Linked DNA regions of Homo sapiens. The protein of the gene in region 5 interacts with the protein of the main gene of each other region in a pairwise test. Each region holds a gene or a part of one and is shown on either strand. Other genes may lie near its edges. The genes, in order: PLA2G6, SEC24A, DMRT3, ZCCHC14, USP54, LMNA and IGFN1.

Evidence for each region.
Region 1: the proteins of USP54 (region 5) and PLA2G6 interact in binary tests that used the Homo sapiens proteins (3 or more experiments, as listed by UniProt).
Region 2: the proteins of USP54 (region 5) and SEC24A interact in binary tests that used the Homo sapiens proteins (3 or more experiments, as listed by UniProt).
Region 3: the proteins of USP54 (region 5) and DMRT3 interact in binary tests that used the Homo sapiens proteins (3 or more experiments, as listed by UniProt).
Region 4: the proteins of USP54 (region 5) and ZCCHC14 interact in binary tests that used the Homo sapiens proteins (3 or more experiments, as listed by UniProt).
Region 6: the proteins of USP54 (region 5) and LMNA interact in binary tests that used the Homo sapiens proteins (3 or more experiments, as listed by UniProt).
Region 7: the proteins of USP54 (region 5) and IGFN1 interact in binary tests that used the Homo sapiens proteins (3 or more experiments, as listed by UniProt).

The regions. Positions count from the first base shown.
Region 1 is NC_000022.11:38,171,831-38,175,330, forward strand, and holds part of PLA2G6 (85/88 kDa calcium-independent phospholipase A2), read right to left. Parts: intron 1-3,500. UniProt on the Homo sapiens protein: Calcium-independent phospholipase involved in phospholipid remodeling with implications in cellular membrane homeostasis, mitochondrial integrity and signal transduction.
Region 2 is NC_000005.10:134,721,785-134,725,096, reverse strand, and holds part of SEC24A (protein transport protein Sec24A), read right to left. Parts: intron 1,531-3,312; coding exon 1,427-1,530; intron 118-1,426; coding exon 3-117; 3' UTR 1-2. UniProt on the Homo sapiens protein: Component of the coat protein complex II (COPII) which promotes the formation of transport vesicles from the endoplasmic reticulum (ER).
Region 3 is NC_000009.12:983,155-986,654, reverse strand, and holds part of DMRT3 (doublesex- and mab-3-related transcription factor 3), read right to left. Parts: intron 1-3,500. UniProt on the Homo sapiens protein: Probable transcription factor that plays a role in configuring the spinal circuits controlling stride in vertebrates.
Region 4 is NC_000016.10:87,420,025-87,423,524, forward strand, and holds part of ZCCHC14 (zinc finger CCHC domain-containing protein 14), read right to left. Parts: intron 693-3,500; coding exon 583-692; intron 1-582.
Region 5 is NC_000010.11:73,500,843-73,504,342, forward strand, and holds part of USP54 (ubiquitin carboxyl-terminal hydrolase 54), read right to left. Parts: intron 3,431-3,500; exon of another isoform or gene 3,342-3,430; intron 1-3,341.
Region 6 is NC_000001.11:156,124,711-156,128,210, reverse strand, and holds part of LMNA (lamin), read right to left. Parts: intron 2,042-3,500; exon of another isoform or gene 2,008-2,041; coding exon of another isoform or gene 1,988-2,007; intron 1,657-1,987; exon of another isoform or gene 1,560-1,656; intron 1,476-1,559; exon of another isoform or gene 1,409-1,475; coding exon of another isoform or gene 1,296-1,408; exon of another isoform or gene 1,262-1,295; intron 1-1,261.
Region 7 is NC_000001.11:201,193,824-201,197,323, forward strand, and holds part of IGFN1 (immunoglobulin-like and fibronectin type III domain-containing protein 1), read left to right. Parts: intron 1-330; coding exon 331-450; intron 451-2,015; coding exon 2,016-2,155; intron 2,156-3,394; coding exon 3,395-3,494; intron 3,495-3,500.

The DNA.
Region 1 (3,500 bases), on a different chromosome or scaffold from region 5:
AAAAAAAAAATTATAAAGACAGGGTCTTACCACGTTGCTCAGGCTGGTCTCGAACGCCCGGGTTCAAGCGATCTGCCTGCCTCAGCCTCTCAAAGTGCTGGGATTACAGGTGTGAGTCACCGTGTCTGGCCTAAAATGTTCTTGATACACCATCACCAGATGCCAGGTTCTCTCTCCTTGCTCTGGGCTCTCCCTCACTTTAAACACATCTGTACTATCACAGCCCAGCATGTTACAACTGCCCCTCCTGCCAGACGGTAAGCTTCGTCATCCTCCTACCAAACACTCCTGTGCATCTTGCTGGCACCATCCTGAAAGCTTTACGTACATTAATCATTCTGTCTGACAACCACTCTATGAACTGGTTACTATTATTATCCTCATTTTACATATGAGAACACCAAAGAACAGAGGGGTAAAGTCACGGGCCCAGGGTCACCCAGCTAGTGGGTGGAGCAGTGAAAGCTGGCACCCAGATGGGCTGGCCCAGAGTCTGAGTTTCTCAAAGGCAGCTGCTCGTCTTTTCATCTCCGTCCACAAGCTTGGCTCACAGAAAGTTTGTCAAAACAAAAATTTAACTGAGTAAATATTATGCATAGAAAAAACAAAGCCTGATAGAAAACAAACCAAGATAGACTGACAGAAAACATGCCATTGAGTAGATGAGGGTGCTGGGTTTATGGGCTTTTGTTTTTTCCTTTTCCCTATTTTCCAGATGCTATGTAAAGCGATTATAGTTTTCAAAGGAAGTAGCAGTATAGGCTGAGCCTCTGGGGGCTGCAGCCGGGAAGATGGGGACCTGTGGGACTCAGGCCTGGCCTGGAAGAGCGCAGAGAGGCTACCCCGAGGACGGGCCCACAGGGACGCGGAGGGGTGCGCCCAGGAAGGGCAGAGAGTCAAGAGCATCCAGCACCCATGAGCCTCAGATTGAGGGAGAAAGTCACCAGGGGTGCAGTGAAATCAAAGAAAGATTCCACACACCCCTTCGTCAATGGCCCAGCCTGTGTACCCCCCACCAGAGCCTGGGGCTAGGGGATGCCCCCCACACACCCACGACAGCATGGCCACAGAAACGACAGGCTTGGCTGGCATCCAGCCTTCAGGGTAGGCAGGAGGACGAGATGACGCAATGGAGGGAAGGTGTCTGGGACACAGGCCGACTGTGGGCACACAAACAGTGGCCATTGTTATCACTAGGTGGAAGAAAGGAAATGACAGCCACGGGGCCACATCCTGGAACACTCACGGCATTGCCAACCAGGAAGGCGGGCCAGCAGGGAGAAAGTGCTCACACGTGCTTCCTTCTGTCCCTGCCACCTTGGACCCTGGAGCCTAGGCTCTTCCCAGCACAGCTGCAAGAGGGGGATGGTGGATGAGGGCCCCCCGCATCATGCCTCACTTCATCTCTCCCCCTGGCTTCTCACAGCGTCCTACCCTTGACCTTCCCGTGGGGTAGACAATCACTTTTCCCCACTGATGACCGGCCCCTCCTCCTCCTTACCTGGGCTTCTCCCTGCACCCCCAGGATGCCCAGGTCACCTGACACAGACCGCACCTCGGCTGTGTCAAGCAGCTCTCTCAAACACCACAAGCAGAAAGACAAAGACCCAAGACCTTTGGTGGTGGGGGTTGACAGTGACAATTCTGCCTGTCCAAGCCAGGCAATTTCCAGGTACCAATTTTGGTGCCCCTGCTGAGGGAAGCCAGATATTTCTGGCCGTTTTCCTTATCTCTGCTCACCCATCCTCTGTCAAAACCAAGCTTGCCTGCTGGGTTCATTGAGGGAAGACTGACAGAGAGTGTGCTGGTGTGAGGGTCCCCTGGAGGAGCTGAAGGACGGGAGGAACAAGTATTATTATCCCATCTTCCCATCTCAGAGATCAAGAAACTGAGGCCCAGAGAGGCCCTGAATTGTACATGTTCAAAGGGCAAATTAAGGCCGGGCACAGTGGCTCGTGCCTGTAATTCCAGCATTTTGGGAGGCTGAGGCAGACGGATTGCTTGAGCCCAGGAATTTGAGACCAGCCTGGGGAACATGGCAAAACCCTGTCTCTACAAAATATAAAATAAAATTAGCTGGGCATGGTGGTGTGCGCCTGTGGTCCCAGCTACTCGGGAGGCTAAGGCAAGAGGATTGCTTGATCCTCTTGAGGTCGAGACTGCAGTGAGCCAAGATTGCACTACTGCACTCCAGCCTGGGAGACAGAGCAAGACCCTGCCTCAAAAACAAAACAAAACAAAGGGCAAATTAAAGTTGATGTCCACCAAAAAACAAAAACAAACGGGCTGGGCGCAGTGGCTCACGCCTGTAATCCCAGCACTTTGGGAGGTTAAGGCGGGCGGATCACGAAATCAGGAGATTGAGACCATCCTGGCTAACATGGTGAAACCCCGTCTCTACTAAAAATACAAAAAAAATTAGCTGGGCGTGGTGGCGGGTGCCTGTAGTCCCAGCTATTCGGGAGGCTGAGGCAGGAGAATGGCGTGAACCCGGGAGGCGGAGCTTGCAGTGAGCCGAGATCATGTCACTGCACTCCAGCCTGGGCGAGAGCGAGACTCTGTCTCAAAAAAAAAGAAAGAAAGAAAAACAAACGAAGAAACAAAAAACCTCGAGTGGGAACAGAGGGAGATTGGAGCCAATGGTAGCATCTCTGATGAGTTCCCTGGAAGTGACTACCTGGGTTCATAAAACAGTCAACAGAGAGACCCAAGACCAGTCCCTGTCTCGCCAAGTGCACGGTCCCCTGAGGGAAGGACCCCTAAAGGGGATGACTTTTTAGCTGAACTTTCCAGGAAGAACAGGAGTTTGCCAGCGGGGGAAATGGCGAGAGGCCTTCACAGCAGATGAAGCAGATCAGAACACGGAGGAAGGCAGAGATCAGGGGCTTGCTCAGCCCACCCATGAACGGTGAGCATTTTCACTGGGACTGGACGGCTCGAGAGGGGAAGGTGCTGAGAGGAGGGGCCGTGGTTAGTGCTGTGATCAACGTGAACACAGGTCACCTGGAGCCACTTGTCCAGGGCTGCTATGTCAGTCACGCCCCTCGCCATGCCCAGGGAAGCTCCTCTCATGACGAGGAGCCAAGCCCCGGAAGAAGTGCAGTAGAGGACAAGGGACCAAGAGGGTGGCTCAGAGCGGGTGGTGAGGGAGAACTCAGTCCCAAAAATCTGGTTCCTCCTCAGCTACGAATTCCCTGAAGGACCCTGGGCAGGTCTCAGGCACGGGAGGAGCGGTCCCTGCCCTCTGATTGCTGCTACCTGCCGCAGCTGCCAGGCCCAGGCAGTCCCCTCTCCTCCCCTTTGGAAGGTCTGTGTGAAAACTGCTTTTCTGTAGTGAAAGGGGCCTGCACTTGCGTCCTCCCTGGAATGCGCTCTCCAGTTCCTGCTGGAGCCCCTGCTCATCCTTCAAGGCCCAGCTGCCCCCTCTGAATGCTCAGAGCACCAGAGTGCCCTTCCAGCCTGCACGGTTCCCAACCCAGCCTGACACCCCTCCATGCCCA
Region 2 (3,312 bases), on a different chromosome or scaffold from region 5:
ATTCATTTATTCACTTGTTGCTGTATATGCAACAGGAATTCATAATATGATAATGCAGATTCTGTTCTGTCTTCTATCATGTTTTGAAGGAAGTTTGCTTTCATTGGACTCTCATCCCTTAGGAATAAAAGGCAAAAAAATTTAGATAAAATGTAGCAGTAAAATAGACTTGTCAGAAGGCTTTTGATTTCCTCATAACCCTAATAACATTTACTATATAAACAGTTACTTCTAGAGGCTTTCTCTGAGAATACTTGGTTGATTATGTAAATTTCAAGTTGTTTAAGGGAAAAGCTTATGGTGGAATTAAGAGAAATAGTTGATCCAGAAATTCCATTTCTGAATATATATCCAAAGGAATTGAAATCAGTATATCAAAGAGATGTCTGCACTTCCATGATCACTGCAGCATTAATCACAATAGCCACGATATGGAAATAACTGAATGGATTTTTCAAATGTGGTATATATATACAATGGAATTCTACCGAGCCTTTTTTTTTTTTTTGAGATGGAGTTTTACTCTTGTTGCCCAGGCTGGAGTGCAATGGCACGATCCTGGCTCACCACAACCTCCACCTCCTGGGTTCAAGCTATTCTCCTGCCTCAGCCTCCCGAGTAGCTGGGATTACAGGCATGTGCCACCATGCCAGGCTAATTTTGTATTTTTAGTAGAGACGGGGTTTCTCCATGTTGGTCAGGCTGGTCTCGAACTCCCAACCTCAGGTGATCTGCCCGCCTCGACCTCTCAAAGTGCTGGGATTACAGGCATGAGCCACCGCGCCCGGCGACTTCAGCCTTTAAAAAACAGGAAATTCTGTCATTTGTGACATTATGCTGAGTGAAATAAACCAGGCACAGAGAGACAAACACCACACGATCTTACTTATGTGTGGAACCTAAAAAAGTTGAACTCATATAAGTAGAAAGTAGAATTATGGTTATTAGAGGCTAGGAGGCAGGAAGTGGCTATGGAGAAGGAAAGAAGAAATGTTAGTCAAAGGGTACAAAATTTCAGTTAGGATGAATGGATTCTGGTGATCTATTACACAGTATGATGACTATGGTTAATAATGATGTATTGTATATTTTAAAATAGGCAAAATAATGGATTTTAAATGTTCTCACCACAAGGAAACAATAATTGGCTGAGAAGATGAATATGTTAATTAGCCGAATTTGATCATTCCACAATGTATACATGTATCAATAAATTAGTGTACCCCATAAATATATACACTTATTATTAGTCAATTAAAAATGAAAAAAGTTCTGTATTTCCAATCATTGGATATAAGGTATGATTTACTGCTATTTATTGAGAAGAACTCTTTTTCTTTCTTCTTTTTTTTTGCTATACTCTTGTCAGGTCCTGGCAAGGCCAAACAAATTGTTTTACTACTAGCAAATGGAAAATTCAACTTACCTTATTACATAAAGTATTGGGAAAAATGGTCTCTGCTCTCTAAGCCAAGAGATGAAAGCTATTATTCTGGCAGATTCTGGTGTATCAAGTTCTGGAAGGTCTGTCTGTTAACCAAAACCAACAATATCCAATTACTTTAATTACATATCTAATGTATGGTCTATGGTACTTTTCAAATTTTTATTTTTTTAATTACATTTTTTTTCTTTTTTGAGACAAGGCCTCTGTTGACAGGCTGGAGTGCAGTGGCATAATCATGGCTCACTGCAGTCTCAACCTCCAGGCTCCGGTGATCCTCCCACCATAGCCTTCTGAATAGTTGGGACTACAGATGCGTGCCACCATGCCTGGCTAATTTTTATATTTCTTGTAGAGATGGGTTTTGCCATGTTGCCCAGGCTGATTTCGAACTCCTGGGCTCAGGCGATACACCTGCCTCGGCCTCCCGAAGTGCTGGGATTACAGGAGTGAGCCACAGTGCCCGGTCTACTTCTCAAATTTAACTTATTTTTTGAGACAAGGTCTTGCTCTGTTGCCCAGGCTGAAGTGCACTGGTGTGATCATGGCTCACTGTAACCTCCACTGCCTCCTGAGGCTCAAGTGATTCTCTCACCTCAGCCCCACCAAGTAGCTGGAATAAGAGGCGTGTGCCACCTGCCAGGTAATTTTTGTATTTTTAGTAGAGACGAGTATCTCACCACGTTGCTCAGGCTGGTCTTGAACTCCTGGGCTTAAGCAATCTGCCCACCTCGGCCTCCCAAAGTTCTGGGATAACAGGTGTGAGCCACCATGCCTGGTCTTGAATTTTAACATGTATATGAATCACCTGATCATCTTCTTGAACTACAGATAATGATTTAGGAGGTCTGGGGCAGGGTTGTGGTCCTGAGATTTTGCTTTCCTAAAAAATTCCTGCAGTGATGCCAGTGCAACTTGACTTGGGAACACAATTTTCTACGAATATTCTAGAACAGGAGTAGGCAAACTTCTTAAAGGCCCATATAGTAAGTACTTTAGGCTTGCAGATCATTTGGTCTCTGCTGCAACTACTTAACTTTGCCATTGTTTTTTATTTTTTGAGACAGAGTTTCGCTCTTGTTGCCCAGGCTGGAGTGCAATGGCGTGATATTGGCTCACTGCAACCTCTGCCTCCCAGATTCAAGCGATTCGCCTGCCAGAGATTCTCCTGCCTCAGCCTCCAGAGTAGCTGGGAGAGTAGTTGGGATTACAGGTGTGCGCCACCACACCCGGCTAATTTTGTATTTTTAGTAGAGATGGGGGTTTCTCCATGTTGGCCAGGCTGGTCTCGAACTCCTGACCTCAGGTCATTCGCCCACCTCGCCTTGAGACGGGGGTTTCTCCATGTTGGGCAGGCTGGTCTTGAACTCCCGACCTCAGGTGATTCGCCAGCCTCGGCCTCCCAAAGCGCTGAGATTACAGGTGTGAGCCACCACGCCCGGGCAACCTTGCCATTGTTACACCAAAGTAGCCATAAACAATACATAAGTGAACAGGCATGGATGTTCCAATAAAACCTTATTTACAAAAACAAGTAGCAGGTACCCCTTGGGCATAGTTTCTAAGCCCTCATCTAAAAAAACCTCTTAGTTCTTCCCTTCATTTTAGCATGACGTCAAGAATTAATTGATTCGTTCAGTTATTATTAAAAATATAACAATTTCTTACTCATTACCTAAAACGCTTAGTCATCCAGCCCAGTAGTTCTGTTTAAGGCCTGAAAGCCAGTGCTTATCCTAGCTATAATCCTGACACAGCAGTCTTTTATTTATTTATTTTTTGAGACAGGTTCTTGCTCTGTTGCCCAGGCGGGAGTGCAGCAGCATAATCACTGCTCACTTCAGCCTCAACCTCCCAGGTCCTAGCAC
Region 3 (3,500 bases), on a different chromosome or scaffold from region 5:
TCCCAAAGTGCTGGGATTACAGGAGTCAGCCACCACGCCCGGCCAGCTCAACTATTTTTAAAAGAAATATATGAACCAAATAGCTTTGTGTTTTAAAAGGTACATCCCCTGCCCCCACTTTAGATAAGTTTCAAACACTGAAAACATATTAGGAAGTGTTTTCTCAGGTCTGTCAACCAAATTGACTCTTCCACAGTACACTTCAGTCTCCAGAAAAAAAGTGGATCAAACAGCAGAAGGCTAACTGAAAGGGGAATTAGGGAATGAGGTTCTCACTAACATAATGACTCTACCATTACAAAAATGGAGGCTTTTTTTTTTCAAGGTAGCAACAGATATACTGTCCCAATCAACTGAATACTTGATACCAGGATTACAAGTCTGACAATATAAAATTCCACTCTTGTACCTATTTTCCTAAGTTCTGCGGAACAGACGGTAGTGGAATCTTATGTCAGTGCCAGCTTGTTCAGCAATTGTGAACTCTCAGACTGTGAAAGTCACTTTCTCATTTTGTTGTGTTACCCTTTGCCCCTGCTACTGGGACATGCTAGTGCATCATGCACTTCTGGTTACTTGTCAAGGAGTGGTGATAGATTACACCGAATCCTCCATGCTCTCTCCGCAGGTCTCTGTGCCGTCTGGCTATAGCCAAAATATGAGAAAAGCTAACACAATGTCACAGGAATCAAATCTACAAATTCAGCGTAAACCAACCAACCAGCTGAGCTCAGCACTGCTTACACTGTGTTCAAAGGAAAGACAAAGATGATGAAAGAACAAGCAGAGCACACCTGTGAGGCTTATGCACCTGAGCCGCACACAAGGTCCTGCTAAGTAGTGCTGGGTGAGCCAAATCCCCATCAACATGTAAGGCTGTTGGAGTTTCAAAACTAGGCAAAGGAAGACTAGCCTCTAACTTTGCACCAAGAATAACTCCTCACCAAACAATAATTTCTGAAGGGCAGGATATATAGTTCCTGCAATTTTGTGGCGCTATGGTGTCTAGTACTGGTTGTATTATTGCACCTAAACTAAATATATTGTAAATTATTCTATTATAAATACAGACTTTCACAGGTAATTATAGAGGGTGAGTTTTGAGCCCAGTGATAAAGTGTAATTTAATAACAGGTACTTCTTTACATCTCCAGATTTGTTCTTAAATAAACTTTACAAATCATTCTAGTTGGTTTAAAACATAAAGGCCTTTCTAGACATAGAAATGTGAAACTGCCAACTAACAAAATAAAATAGGAAATACTCCTGAAACATTTTACCTTCTTTCTTCTTGAAACTGAAACCCTAATTCCTAGAACATTAAGAGTGTATATCAACTGATAATATTTTTACCCCGGTAGATGGGTATAGAAAGTCAAAGCTATTAAACAGGGAAGAAATCAATTTTATCGAATATGACAAATATTACTGAAAGTGATACAATATGCTGTTTCTATTGCTAAACATGTACATATTTTTAAAATCTTAATATTCTCTCTTCCATTTCATATTTCATGGGGTAGAAACACTTATAGCTATCCCTGAAATAAACTGTGCACTAGGGTAAAGAGGTTTTTAAAAGAAGTAGATATTCAATTAAAAAGAAAAGTTTTTCTACAGATAACAATGCTACCGACTTCAAAATATATATGCCATAAGATGACTACAATACTTTTTTTTCTTTTTTTGCTACAAGACTTTAAAGAGAGAAAATAAACACTCACAAAAGTGCTTTCAATCTAAAATTACAGTTTGAAAATGTAACTTTCTTTAGGGGAGTTTTTCACATAAAAATGCAATTTAGTAAAAAAAAAATGTATTATTTCAAATACTTTGAGAAAGTCTACCACATATGAGAAACAAACATTCTGCTCACGATGCATAAAAGTGAAAAATCTGGCTGGGCGCGGTGGCTCACACCTGTAATCCCAGCACTTTGGGAGGCCGAGGCAGGTGGATCACGAGGTCAGGAGATCAAGACCATCTGGCTAACATGGTGAAACCTCATCTCTACTAAAAATACAAAAAAAAATAGCCGAGCATGGTGGCAGGTGCCTGTAGTCCCAGCTACTCAGGAGGCTGAGGCAGGAGAATGGCGTGAACCCGGGAGGCAGAGCTTGCAGTGAGCTGCAGATCTCACCACTGCACTCCAGCTGCGGCGACAGAATTAGACTGTCTAAATAAAAAAAAAAAAATGTGAAAAATCTTTCTGACTTAGATGTCATAGGTTATATCCATTCTATCCAATTATATCTACGAAAACAAAATAGTTCTTACATACAGAATGAAAACACAGAAAAACTCGAGCAGAGAGGAATATTTCCTAGCTCAAAAGTCACTGGACTCCCCCATCCCTTTTGAAATCATGTCACGCATTTTGAAACATAGATTGTCATATCCTCATCTGTTCACTTGAGCTGTGGGGAACACACCTGTAAATAACAGGTCCTTGATGGGTAGTTTTCAAAGCACATAAATCTTACAACAATGGCAAGGGAGGGAGCCCAGGCAGGATGAGACTTTTACAGGAGACCATTGCCTAATCAGAATTCTAATCGTAGACAAACGCTTCACATTTTCTCTTACCTTCATCTCACACTAGAAGTGATGAATTATTTTAAAAAAATGAATAGTTGAAAATCTAAAGAACACCAGGGAATGATCTCGATCTAAAAACTTTCCTTTTCTTCCTGGGGTGGATTGCCGGGTTGGGGAGGGTTGTGAAAAGTTAAAAAAAAAAAAAAAACTAGCCATGCTTTACTTTTTAAAAAATCATTAACAACACTGAATTAATAACGTATGAAGGAATCAGAGTGGTTCCTTGACACTATATTTTGGGGGAATATTGCTATAGACAGGACTGGGCTGAAGGAAGTATGGTTTGCAACTGTGGACCTCACATATTTTGTAAAAAATTAGTTTTGATCTCTTTCTTGACTCAGAAGGGAATACCTTCCAAGAAGCAGAGGGGAAATTACCTACAAATCTACATGTTTATTTGGTACCTTCCAAAATGCACCTGTCTAACTCATCCATCTATTTAACAAATGCCCCTAAATGCCTTACTATGCTCTCATGTACTGTGCTGGGTAAGATCATACAGAGATGATCAAAGCATTGCCTCTTGACCACTGAGAGGCATACAGTTTACTAACTAATCTTTTGCAAAATTCCAAGTAAGCTGCAGTTGGTTATATTTCACAGTGAAATACAGCAAATAATTCCAAGGATAGCAGCTGGGCAGACCATGGTGTCTTCACAGGAGGAAATATTGTTTTAAATGCTTACATATAAAGATTATGGGTGCTAGAGATATATACTGAACTAAACAAAGTAATAATCAGTGGGAAAAACGTGGAACACTAATCCCAGCTCTGTAAAATTTATGTCTGCCTAGTTGTTGTAATCAAGAGATTGGAGATTTTGTAAAGAATTGATGTGCCGACTCTTAAGTTTTTCATTATTATTATTGTTACTTGGTACTTGATTGTGCCTTTTAT
Region 4 (3,500 bases), on a different chromosome or scaffold from region 5:
ATTCAACTGAGTTCTTGCCCGACTGCCACTGCTTCTTCAAGCCCTTCCTCTCAATGCTGTATTCATGGCCACCAAGGTTGACGACAGCAGTCATGCCCTGTGACATGAGATCAGTGCCACCCACCAGCCAGAAAGGTGCTTGGACACTGGTCCCCAGGGCCCCGGCAGCAGCACATTTACGGAACTGGTCGGCCATGTTACTTCGTGTGCCACGTGAGCCAAGACACGATCGAGGGTCCAGAGAAACTGTTTAAGAGACGCCAATTTTATCTGGGAATAGTCTCAACCTTGGACTACAGGATGGAAACAGCAGCCCAGGATTATTTCACAGGACTGCCAAAGCCCAAGACGTGGTGGGACCCACCCTGGAATTCCCTTCCTCACACACTCAGAACCACTCTCAGCTTACTGAGGGCTCCCGAATCCTCCAGAACTAATGGAAATCCCTAGAGGCCAAGTAGAGACCCAGGTCCAGGTGACCGCGCATCCTCCCAGAGCTCCTTGGAGGACCACAGCATTGACCACAGGACCAGCCTGTCCTTGCCAGCTGTGGACGCGCCGGGTGCCTGGTAAGGGCCTCACCTCAGGCCTGAGTCCAGATCCACGTGGTTTCGCTCCACATAAAATGCGTCCGGACCAGCTAAGCAAGGAATGAGTTTCTCCAAGTTCTCTTCAGGATAGAGCTGACATAGCTGGAAGAGAGGACAAGGTAGAGGAGGTGTGTCCAGACCCATCCAACACCAGCAGAATTCTGCTACTGCAGGAAAACCTGGGGCAGGTGCTCCATGGTGCCGCCTGCTGGTCTGATATGATTTACACCTCCCGTCAGAGCTATTCTGGGGCCCACATCCACTTAGGGTGTAGAAAGTCACAAAAGAACATCGCTCTCACAGTTACATCCGGAAAAGCTTGACAATCTGCACAATCACAATGTTCCTTGAGCCCATCTGAGAGTTGCTGGGCCACTAAGTCAACTTAATTTCAAACGGGACCTGCTCCCATGACAAGCCAGGGCACAAGGCCCTGGTGGCTGCCACACCAGCAGGTCTGGAGAGACAGGTTCCGATGGACACACTGCCACAGGCTGACGTGGCCAACAGAAATGCCGGAGCCCCAGGCGGGGCAAGTGGGCCCTTCTTTCCAAGTTCCTTTCCGCAGGAGGAGCCAGAGAGAGCCCCATCGGTGGCACCTGGGGACCGGGCACCAGGCCTAGTGCAATTCCCGGGACCACTCTCTGGATCTGAGGAAAAGCCCTTAAGACGTTGCAGGAGGGACAAAAATTGCTCCTGGCCCCAGAGCCCAAACCAAAGGCCCGGTTTTTAGGAGTGGGGCAGGGACAATACTTCCCTTCCTCTGCCACCAGTCACAAGAAGACCCGCTGCTCCTGGAAGAAGGGGAAAAGCAAAAGCGCTCTGGTGCTGGAGGAGGTCAGCTCCTGCCGGGGAGGGCAAGGCACTGAGGAAGTGCCACCCCGAAGCCCAGGCACACAGGCCTGCCCAGGATCAGGCTGGGCTGCAAGAGTGAAGGCCCTTGCCCCCACAAGCCCAGCACCAGGTCGCAAACAAGCAGCAGCGGTCTACCCCCGAAAAGGGGCCGAGAGGGTAGAGAGTGCCCTGCTGTGTGCCACAGGCCTGCAGGGACGGCTGAAAGCTGGGAGTGAAGCAAAACGGCGGAGAAGACCCTCCAGACTCAGGCAGCAGCTGCCTTCACTGGAGAGGCCCTGAGGGTAACAGAGGCAGCAAGAGAGCCCAGTGCCAGCTTCATCCTGCCCAGATGGCCTCCAGGACCCCACTAAGGGCCCTGGCAGAAGAGGTGTTGACCCTTTCCAGGCATAAATCTCGCTCTCCTCCGGCTCCACGGTCATCTAAACATGTCTGACATTCAGTCAACATTTGCAAGACATACCAAAAAAAAAAGGAATAAAGGGGGAAAAAACTATTGTCAAGAGATAAAGCAATCATTAGAACCAGATTCAGAAATAACTCAGATGTGGGACCTAGTGACAGGGACTTTAAACAGCTATGATGGATGTACTAAAGGACCTAGTGAAAACGACAATATGCACAAACAAGCGGGAACTTTCATGAACACGTTTCAGCAGAGAGATGGAAACTTCATGAACACGTCAAATGGAAAACCTAGGGGCAAAAACACAAAAGAAACCCCTGGCAGCAGAAATGAGGACTTGAGTACATGGACAGGCTCCACAGCAGCCTGGGCAGAACTGAGGGGATCGGCTGGTGTGGAAACGGGCACAGGAACCACCCAGACGTACACACAGAGAAATGCACAAGCATGGGAGAGCCGTGGGGCGGCAGCACCAGGGGTCTGAGGCTCGTGCCGCCAGAGTCCAGGAGAGGGGAGGATGCGGCAGAAGAAATGCTTGAGGAGAAAATGGATAAGAATTTTCCAAAATTAGGCCAGGTGCAGTGGCTCACACCTGTAACACCAGTACTCTGGGAGGCCGAGGAGGACAGATCACCTGAGGTCAGGAGTTCAAGAGCAGCCTGGCCAACATGGTGAAACTGTCTCTACTAAAAATTAAAAAAAAAAAAAAGAGAGAGAGCTGGGCGTGGTGGTGTGCACCTGTGATCCCAGCAACTTGGGAGACTAAGGCAGGAGAATTGCTTGAAGCCGGGAGGTGGAGGTTGCAGTGAGCCAAGATCATACCACTGCACTCCAGTCTGGACAACAGAGTGAGACTCCATCTCAAAGAAAAAAAAAACAAAACAAAACACTGAGACAAAAGCCCAATGAGAGGTCGAAGTTCCAGCCGGCAGGAGTGGAGTCCAGGGAAGCTGTGTTTAACAAAAGGGGAAACTACACACAGAGGCGAGGAGATTTAGTATTTTAAACACTACAGAGGGAAAAGCAGATTCCCGGGGGGGGGTGTGTGTTACCCTCGAAGGCGTGGCACTGTCGTGTTCTTCAATGCCCAAGAGGCCAAAAAGATAAGTGTAATCAGACATCGTCCTCACTCCATGTTCTCCTGCAGGATGAGGCCTTGGCTTTATAATGAAAAGTAAGGCTCTCTTTGGAGACATTTACATATGTTATCCCATTCACAAAGCTGACTGCCTGAGAGGCATCACTTTGGCTGAGACAGTCGTTCACGCTACAGCACAGGCCAGTGGGCCCTAAACACGTGTGCAGTTACAACTGTGTGTACACATGCACACGGAGGCAAAGAGGCATTTATTTAGTAGTGGAACTTTCTGTTCAATGGTATCTGCTGAACCAGATATTTGTAAAGATAAACGTGGGAGGACCACTTGAGCACCAGGAGGTCAAGGCTGCAGTGAGCTGTGATGATGGTACCACCACAACCCAGCCTGGGCGAGAGCAAGATCCAGTCTCTTAAAAAAATAATAATAAAATAAATAAATAAATAAAAACAGATAAAGGTAGAACTAGGTGAAGTCTCTACCCACTCAGCCACCTGAGCATGCCTCTCTCCCCCAGCCTTTGCCAAGGAAACCTGGGGGACTGAAAAGTAACAA
Region 5 (3,500 bases):
TAATGAGACAAGACAAAAAAACATAGAGATGAGGATTAACACAAAGCAGGATGTAGTTGGGTAAACACAGTGAGGCAAGCAAAGGGAAATGGAGGGAACCAGAGCACAAACATGCCTACATGCCTTGTTCTGGAACAGGACCCAATTTACTCAGTTGCTCTCCCTGCTAGCCCTCTAAGAAACTGCAAACTTCAGATCCTTATCCCTTAACCAGTCTTCCTCATATCCCTCACCTTCCCAACCCTATCATTCAGGTCTTTAGCAAACTCCTTAATGCTAACAGTAGAATTAGAGAGATTGAGATAGAAATTTAAAAATAAAAACGAAATATGAGAAATTCAGAAAGCCTGAGAGAATGAGAAAAAAAAATCCTTCACTTATTCTAAGTACTGGGAATGAAACTATATATGTTTAAATGTAGAATCAAGAACTCTACCCCATCTTCTCTCCTGTCACTGCTACACATTCCACAGCTTCCTCTTTTGCCTGTCAAGTTTGTATTTACTGATGCTAATGTCCTGCTCTACTCCCTATTAGTTATCTACTTTTATGATAAATACCCAGAAATATTCCCCTTTAACATCTGAAACACTAACATATCCAAAATTGAACCAAAATCCTTCCAAACTCCTCCTCCTGGCACCTCATTTTCCTAAATCACCCATATTCAAACATTGGCAATGACCTTGATTTCCCACTTCCCATCCACAATTCCATTACTTGCCAAGGACTATCATTTCTACCTATGGGTTTTATATTTAAATTCACCTGGACTACTGCAACAGCCTTCAATCTGCTTTTCCTATCTCCCATCCACTCCTCCTTACTGTGGCCTACAAGGTCCTGTGTGATATGGCCCTGCTGCTCCTCACTTTATTTCCTATCATTCCTGGAGCTTTTACACTCTAACTTTAATATTCCTCAAACACACCAAGCTCATTGCTACCTCAGAGTCTTTATACTTCCTGTTTCTGTTACCAAGAATATTCTTCTGATGGCTCATACTTTCATATCACTGAGATCTCTAATCAAAAGTTACTTCCTTAGAGCTGATTTCCCTCACTACCCTACTATCAGGAATAGCCCTCAAAAAAACCACTATTACCTCTTTACTCTTTATTCTCTTGCCTTATTATTCTTTATCATACTTATCATTGTCTGGCATTATGTCATTTATTTGTTTATTGTCTTCTCCCCTATTTCTTTTTACTTCTGTATCCGCAGCACCTTGAACAGTGCCTAGAACAATGTGGGCACTTAGTAATAATACATTAAATAAAATAATCTATATGCCAGTATGTCTAATTTCCTTTACGAGACTGCAAGCTACTCAAGGGCAGAATTTGTGTTGTTTCATCAGTGTATGCTCACAGCACCTACTACAAAATGGCACAAAGTAAGCATTTATCATACTGCCTAAGGACCAGGTGCCAGTCCTCTCAGCATGTGACACAGCTAATTATTCCTTTCTTCTTTTTTTTTTTGAGACGGAGTCTCGCTCTGTCACCCAGGCTGGAGTGCAGTGGCGCAATCTCGGCTCACTCACTGCAAGCTCTGCCTCCTGGGTTCACACCATTCTCCTGCCTCAGCTTCCCAAGTAGCTGGGACTACAGGCACCCGCCACCGCGCCCAGCTAATTTTTTTGTATTTTTAGTAGAGACGGCATTTCACTGTGTTAGCCAGGATGGTCTCAATCTCCTGACCTTATGATCTGCCCGCCTCAGCCTCCCAAAGTGCTGGGATTACAGGCGTGAGCCACCGCGCCCGGCTATTCCTTTCTTCTTGAAACACTCTCCCCTTGGTGACTATGGTACCACACATCCTTGGTTTCCCTTCAGTCTCTCTAATCTTTTTTTCTCAGTCTCCTTTTAGGGTTCTTCAGAAGAACCACCTTAAATCTGATGCTCTTTAGGGATATGTCCTGGCTCCTCTTCTCTTTCTGCAAGTCTTTTCCTCTTTTTCAATGGCTATGATTCCCAGATTTCAATTTGCAGCTTATATATCTCATTCCAAAAGCCTGCCAGATACCTCCACTCAAGCTTAATATATGTAAAACTGAATGCATATCTTCCCTCAAATATATCATTATCTACCCATAAAACTTGAGTATCATCCTTTATCCCCACTCCCAACATCCAGGCAGGCACCAACTCCCACTGATGTTTACTTCCTAACTGGGTCTCAAATACATCGACTTATCTCTATCCTTCCAAACTACTTACTGTGACATACAGGGCTGTCTGTGGTCCATAATATTCTTTGTATCCTCTCTTGTCAACACTCTCCATCATCTCCCCTTGCCAGACTTTCTAATCCTGCCATACTAAATAAGCTTCTTTTAATTCAGTTAATATTTGCTCAGGTCCCTTTTACTTGCTATATTCTTTTTGCTTCCTCCAGGAAGCCTTCCATGATACCTCAAGCCTGATTTAAATATCCCTTCTATTATGTTCCCATAGGATCAAATCCTTAACACATTATAACTGTTTGTTTATTTATCCGTCCCTCACTGTAGACTGTAAGCTCCATAAAAGCAGGGACTATATCTAACTCACCATTGTAGCTCCAGCACCTAGCACAATACCTAGAACACACTCAATAAGCACTTATTTATTTGTTTATTTTTGTGCTAGGAATCTTGTACAGAATCAATAAGCATTTATTTAAAAGAATGAATCAATGAATGATACAGAAGTCAGAAGAAAGGAAGCCAACTCTCCTAGGAAAAGAACAATTTGCCATTAAATGAATTGAAAGTACATGAGAACAAATGCTAGGCAGGAGAGTCCACCTTTTCCAAAAAAGAATGGCAGCCTGATCAGAATTGCTTAGGAATTTATGAACGATAAATTGAATGAAACTTACTATAAATTCGGCTGGGTTTTTTTGTTTGTTTTGTTTTGTTTTTGAGACAGAGTCTTGCTCTGTTACCCAGGCTGGAGTGCAGTGGCTCAATCTCAGCTCACTGCAACCTCTGCCACCCGGATTCAAGCGATTCTCCTGCCTCAGCCTCCCGAGTAGCTAGGACTACAAGCACCCCCCACCATGCCTGGCTAATTTTTATATTTTTGCCATGTTGGCCAGGCTGGTCTCGAACTCCTGACCTCAGGTGATCCACCATCCTTGGCCTCCCAAAGTGCTGGGATTACAGGCATGAGCCACCACGCCTGGCCTCGGCTGATTTTTAAAAATTGGAAAAATGAGTACCTCTTAGGAGGGAAACTGAATCTGAAGGGCTGGTAGAAGACAGACTTGGTTTTCACCATATATGCTTTTATACCTTTTTATTTTTGTACCATGTATTTAAAATCTGTTTTTACATTTTTCCTGAACTGACCTAGTGGACAACCTTCAATGCACTGGTACTTTGTACCCTGACCTCTACTGTGATGAACACTCAACTTGGGCAAGGAAGTGAAATTCTCCAAAGGTATGATTACCTACAAACCTAGCCACTGATATTATTTAAGTTTGTTGATCTCTAATGGCTTGGGCTTTCC
Region 6 (3,500 bases), on a different chromosome or scaffold from region 5:
ATATAGAGCTTATTAGGTACCAAGCACTGCTCTAAATATTATGTTAACTCACGTCATCTTCACAGCTACCCTATGCGATAGGTGCTATTCCTATGCAATTGAGGAAATAGGCACAGAAAGCTATATCTAGGGTCCCGCAGCAAGTAGATAGGGGAGCTGGAAATCCATGCTGTACCACTTTGGCACAAGCCACAGTATATGGTCTCCAAGGAAAGTAAGGGGGCTGGCTGAGTGTGGTGGCTCACACCTGTAATCCCAGCACTTTGGGAGGCCAAGGCAGGTGGATCACTTGAGGCCAGGAGTTCGAGACCAGCCTGCCAACATGGTGAAACTCTGACTCTATCAAAAATACAAAAATTAGTCGGGCAAGGTGGTGCACGTCCATAGTCCCAGCAACTTGGGAGGCTGAGACACGAGAATTGCTTGAGCCTGGGAGGCGGAGATTGTAGTGAGTTGAGATTGTACCACTGTACTCCAGCCTGGGTGACAGAGTGAGACTCTATCTCAAAAAAAAAAAAAAAAAATTTAGCTGGGTACGGTGGTGTGCACCTGTAGTCCCAGCTACTGAGGAGGCTGAGGTAGGAGGATCACTTGAACTTGGGAGGCGGAGGTTGCAGTGAGCCGAGATTGTGCCACTGCACTACAGCATGGGTGACAGAGCGAGACTCCATCTCAAAAAAAAAAAAAAAAAAAAAAAAAAACAGTAAGGGGGTTATTTGTCTTTCCCTGGTGGAGGTTTTGACTAGCACTGCAAAGAGAGGAGATTAAAGGACTAAGACACACCCTGCAGATGAGAAAAACCACGAGCAGAGAGGGAAGTGAGGAAGAACCTTTGTGGTTTTCTTAGGCACGGGGAGCTCCCATCTGCGGGGAAGAAGCCACTATCACCCATGGGCTCATGACTCAGACCTTGGGAGCTCTGTGGCCAGGGAGCCACACGCACACCCCAAGAGATGACTAGGGGTACAGTAGAGCCCAGTGTCTCTCCTCCCTCCTCCCTGCCCCCGCCCCCAAGTGCCATTTCCTTCCTAGGAGGGGTCCTCAGACCTAGCAGGGACCAAAGTAGACCCTAGCCAGGCATTCGGTCCCAGGGTGGTGGTGCAGCCCACTCCACTGGGGGTTGGCATCAGGAAAGCTGAGCACACGCTGAGTGCCGTCCCCGTGCTGGGTTGGCAGGGAGGACAGGGTGGGGCAGGCCAGAGGAGCTGGGAAGGGTGGGAACCTGGGCCCCTCAGGTGACTCATGCTCAGGCACACAATACCCGGGCAGGGGTCGGGAAATCCTCTAGTGCTCACAGGGGAGACCCTGGCTTCGCCCGTGTCCTGCCCCAGGCCGGGTGCTGTGCCAGCAGAGTGCCAGTCCTTTCCCTTGCATCCTCCAGGTTCCCCAAGCACAGGAGTGGCTGCATCCCAGTGGCCTCTTGAGGCGAGAAGGGCTGGGCATCCTGTTTCTAACTCTTCCCATCACTGGCAAATCTGATCTCAGAAAGAGGGAAGAGAGGGGGTGGGGAGGGGAACAGAGAGGAAAAGAATAAGGTAGAAATGAGAGTTGGCACTTGCAAATGTGACCCAAGGCAGGGGTCTGAAGAGCTGTGCCTGGTGGGACAAGGAAGTCCGGCTCCCCAGCTGCAGCAGGCCCGGGCCCTTGGGGCTGTTTGGGGAAGAAAGGCACCAGCACAGCAAAGGGGCTAGGTGGGCACCGGGCCAGGCGCTGACCCACCCTCTGAGTCACCCTGCTCAGCCCAACTCTGATGCCAGATATGGAAGCCAGGGCCGGCCACAGGCCTGTTTGGGCCCGGTTGCTGGGGGCAACAGGCTAGGCCCGGAGGGAGAGGCCTCCGTTTCCTCTCCCAATCTGGGGGAGAAGCAAGAGGGACAGACACTGTAGCTAAAAATAACAAGTGGGAGGGGAAGACAAAGGGGAGGTGGAGGAGCTGGCCCAGCCCTGCAGGGACTCCTTAGACCCACTCCTCAGCAGCCCTGCTCACCAGCCCTCAGAGTTCCCCATTGCCAGGCAGCACACAGGAAGGGAGCAGAAGAGCAGAGGGTCTCCCAGCCCCTGGGCATTTCCTGTCTCCCAGGAACATCGCCCCCTGTGGCCGGGTGGGTACAGGGAGTCCGCCTGGTGGCAAATGCTCTCCTGTATCCTCCTGGGCATCTAATTTGTTTAATTTTAATTTAAAATTTTTAATTGTTTAATTTTAAAATTTTTCATTTATTATTATTACTATTATTATTATTTTGAGGTGGAGTCTCATTCTGTCGCCCAGGTGATCTCACTGCAACCTTCACCTCCCAGGTTCAAGTGATTCTCCTGCTTCTCAGCCTCCCGAGTAGCTGGATTACAGGCCTGCACCACCATGCCTAGCTAATTTTTCTATTTTTAGTAGAGACGGAGTTTTGCCATGTTGGCCAGGCTGGTCTCGGACTCCTGACCTCAGGTGATCCACCCGCCTCCACCTCCCAAAATGCTGGGATTACAGTCATGAGCCACCGCGCCCAGCCCCTATTATTATTATTTTTGAGACAGAGTCTCACTGTGTTGCCCAGGCTAGAGTAGAGTGGCGCGATCTCGGCTCCCTGCAACCTCCACCTCCCAGGTTCAAGCAATTCTTGTGCCTCAGCCTCCAGAGTAGCTGGGATTACAGGCGCCTGCCACCACACCCAGCTAATTTTTGGCATTTTTAGTAGAGATAGGGTTTCGCCATGTTGGCCAGGCTGGTCTTGAACTCCTGACCTCACGTGATCCTCCTGCATCAGCCTCCCAAAGTCCTGGGATTACAGGCGTGAGCCACCACACCCAGCCCCTCCTGGACACCTAGACCTCTGCCCAGGCTGACTTCCCGCCATGTGACAGGGCGTCTTCTGCTGCCACCCCAAGCCACTCCTACCACCCCTCCTTTTGTTCCAGCAACTCCTCCTACTGCAATATATCCTCCTTCTCTCTGTCCCTCCCTCCCATTCACCCAAAACCTCCCTACCCCTCAGCCTACTTGAGCCTGTCTCAGCTCTGCCCTGCTGATTTCAGCCAGTGTTCTACCTGTTGGGTCGTGGGGCTTTTTCTGTGTGTCCCACAAATACCCGGAGACTAGACGGTTCACAGGCTCAAGGCTTCTAGAGGAACCTTCTCTTGAACCAACTCCTATACTTTTACAGGGGGAAACTAAAGCCTGGAGACGGGTAGGCTCAGGCACTAAAAACCTGCCCCCAGGTCACCTGAGGACACTCACAGCAGATTGGTGCAAAACATAGAAAATGGCACGATACACACAGACACTGCAGAGAATAACACAGAGAGACCCAGTAAGACAGTCTGGGAAGCGTGTCTGCCTCTGTCTCGCTTGCTGGGAGATACCCCAGTCAGAGAGTGATACGGAGGCCTAGTGAAAGTGCCACTCCCACCCACCCTCAAATATACACATACTCACACCTTTGTGTGCGGCCAATCATGAGGTTTGATAGCCCCTACCTCCCCCCCAACCCGGCAAAGTAACCACTGCT
Region 7 (3,500 bases), on a different chromosome or scaffold from region 5:
CCTGCTTCTTGGCTTCCTGAGAAGGAGCCCTTTCTCACTCTTTCTTCCCAGCTTTTCCCCAGTGACACACTCAGGGTCTTCCTAGGGTGCCCCACCCACTTCCTAGAGGCTCCATTCACACTGCCAGAGTGTGTGCCACCAGATTCCCACTAGAGAATTCAAAAGCACTGTGCACAGGCAGGAGGTACTACAAATAATCCTGACCCAAAAGTAGGAGCGAGAAGGGGCTTCTTGCTCCTGGGGTGAGTGGGTGGATGCCCATTCTGTTGAAGGGCCACCCAGGAGGAAGAAGGTGGAAGGCCCCATCTCCTTCCCTCCTGCATTCTCCAGGAAAGCTCCGGAAGTCCCACATCCCTGGAGTGAGCATCTGGCAGCTGGTGGAGGAGATCCCTGAAGGCTGCAGCACGCCGGACTTTGAGCAGAAGCCCGTCACCTCGGCTCTGCCAGAGGGTGAGCCCAGAGGGGAGCTGCGGAGGGGAGGCAAGATTCTTGCTCTCCTACCTCCCAGGGGAGAGGGCTGGGGCACCAACCTTCCTGGGGACCCAGGCCCTATATCCATCACTAGGCCATAGCCCATCTCCCTCCTATCCTTGAGGGGGTATGTGCTTACCTGGAACCCTAGAAGTGACAAGAGGCCTGGGGAAAAGAGTGGATAAAGAGAGTGAAGAGACACCATGCTATTCTGGTGTGAGAAATATCTGGGGGGCAGGGATGGAAAAATGCTAAACTGGGGAGCAGGGAGAGGTTGTGGTGTTTCCTGGTCCCTGTCTCCTCACCTCAAAGCCACTGCTGCAGAGAGGCACTGTTAAAACAGTTAATTTGACTCTTCCCAATCCTCGCCTCCAGGCAGCAGCACCTGCTGTGGCTCACAGGCTGGGCTCAGGAAGGCCCTTCTAGAAGGCCACATAAGAAGGTGTCCAAGAAAGTGGTGGGAACAAAGGCTTATTGGGGAAAAAGTGGGAATTGGTGTTCTTTCCCCAACACACACCCTGCAATAAATTTTAGTTCATAGCATCCTGGTAATAAGAAAAAGAATGGTATTTTATTTTTCTAAATCTGGAACAAGGTAATGAGAAATTGGGAAGGGCCCTTGGGCCTTTGGTCTATATTGCTGTCTACTGAGATGTTCCTGGTGGGAGGCTGAGGGATTCCTTGAGGGCGGGCAGTTCCCAGGCCTCCATGACAGGCATGGAGCATGGGGTCTTTTCTGAGGCTGAAGCCTGTGTCTCAGCACCGGATCCTTCGGGCACCAAATAGTCACTCCTTCTCCTAGTTGTGATTCCTCCTCCCCCTAGAGAGTAGGAAGGGAAGCCAGAAAATCTCTTCTTTTTTTTTTTTCTTTTTTTGAGATGGAGTCTCGCTCTGTTGCCCAGGCTGGAGTGCAGTGGCGCAATCTCTGATCACTACAACATCTGCCTCTGGGGTTCAAGTGATTCTCCTGCCTCAGCCTCCCAAGTAGCTGGGATTACAGGCACATGCCACCAAGCCTGGCTACTTTTTGTATTTTTAATAGAGATGGGGTTTCACCATGTTGGCCAGGCTGGTCTCGAACTCCTGATCTCAGGTGATACGACTGCCTTGGCCTCCCAAAGTGCTGGGATTACATGCGTGAGCCCCTGCGCCTGCCCGGAACTCACAAAATCTCATTCCCTTCCTAGTCTTGGCAGAGCCTTCAGACTCCTTGCTCACCCACTCTCAAAGAAAAGCCCCTGTCCCCTAAAGCCCTGCTGGCCTCCCCTTTCACCAGGGCCAGTCCACCTGTCTCTTTCCCTCAAGCAGCCCAAGCTTCTGCAATATAGAAAGAGGAAGCACTGCCTTCTGGGTGCCTGGAATCTGCTGCTTTCCACCTGCGTATTCTGAGTCCTGAGTCAAGGGGACCAAGGCCTGGCATCCTTTTTGGAAGGGGCAGTTGAAATACCTAGATGAGGAAGACGATATAAATTAAAATTTAAATAAAGTATACAGTCACCCTCTCCCAACTTGTCAGTCTCCCTACTCGTCTCTTCCTGCTGCAGGGAAAAATGCTGTCTTTCGGGCTGTGGTCTGTGGGGAGCCCAGGCCCGAGGTGCGTTGGCAGAACTCCAAAGGTGACCTCAGTGATTCCAGCAAGTACAAGATCTCCTCCAGCCCTGGCAGCAAGGAGCACGTGCTGCAGGTAAGAACCGTAGCTCTTCCCCTGACCAGGGTCTACTCGTCTTTTCCCATCCCCTTGAAGGTCTCTTTGGCAGCCTCCAATCCCTAGAGGAGTAAGACATACTCCTCGTTGAGGTTGAATCCATTCAACTCCATCTCGTGACTCAAAGTTGCCTGAGCCAAGAATGGATCTGGCAGGCTTGCAGATACCTCTGCTGATAACCTGGGAGGTGGTGTAGACTGGAGCTTAAGAGCTCAAGCTCTGAAGTCAGACTGCTGGAGTTACAATCCCAGGCCCACCACCTTGGCTTTAGAAAGTCATTTTACTCTTTTTACCTCTGTCTCCTCATTTGTAAAAATGGGATAATAATAGTACCTACTTTAAGGAGTTGTTATGAGTTGTTGTTGAGATGGATCTCACTCTGTCGCCCAGGCTGGAGTGCAATGGCGTGATCTTGGTTCTCTGCAACCTCCACCTCCCAGGTTCAAGCGATTCTCCTGCTTCAGCCTCCCAAGTAGCTGAGATTACAGGCATGCGCCATCACGCCCGACTAATTTTTGTATTTTTAGTAGAGTTGGGGTTTCACCATGTTGGCCAGGCTAGTCTTGAACTCCTGACCAACAATGATCCATCCGCCTCGGCATCCCAAAGTGCTGGGATTACAGACATGAGCCACTGCGCCTGGCCAGGAGTTGTTATGAGGATGAAAGTTTTATGTAAAGTGTCTAGCTAGTGCCTGGCCTATAGTGAGTACTCAATCAATCTTGGCTAATCTGAGCAATATTATAAATACTAACCATGGGATACCTACTATGTGCCAGGCCCTACTATGTCCCAGGGGCTAAATATTTGACATAGATTATATATTTAATTCTAATTATTCACCACTTTTTTGAGGTATTATATTCCCATCTTACAAATGAAGAAACTGAAGTTGAGAGAAGTTAGGTAACTTGCCCAAGGTCCCACAGCTAGTAATACAGGACAGAGACTGTTTTCAGGCCCAGATCCATCTGACCCCAAAAAGCACACTCTTTCTACTTCGCTACATTGCCTCTGATGGCAAAGAATTGATACATCCACCCTCTGTCCCAAACCAGGTTTCTGTTTTGGGGTCTGTCTTTCCTGATAAAGACTGTGAGCTCCATGAGGACAAGGACCATGTCTTACTCACTTTATACCCCCAACACATAGCCGTGTCTAGTAAATGGAGGAAGGGGATGTGGTAGCCCTGTTCCTCTGCCCTTGGCCTCTCTGCAGATCAACAAGCTGACAGGCGAGGACACGGATCTGTACCGCTGCACAGCAGTAAATGCGTACGGAGAGGCCGCTTGCTCAGTGAGACTCACTGTCATCGAAGGTGGGC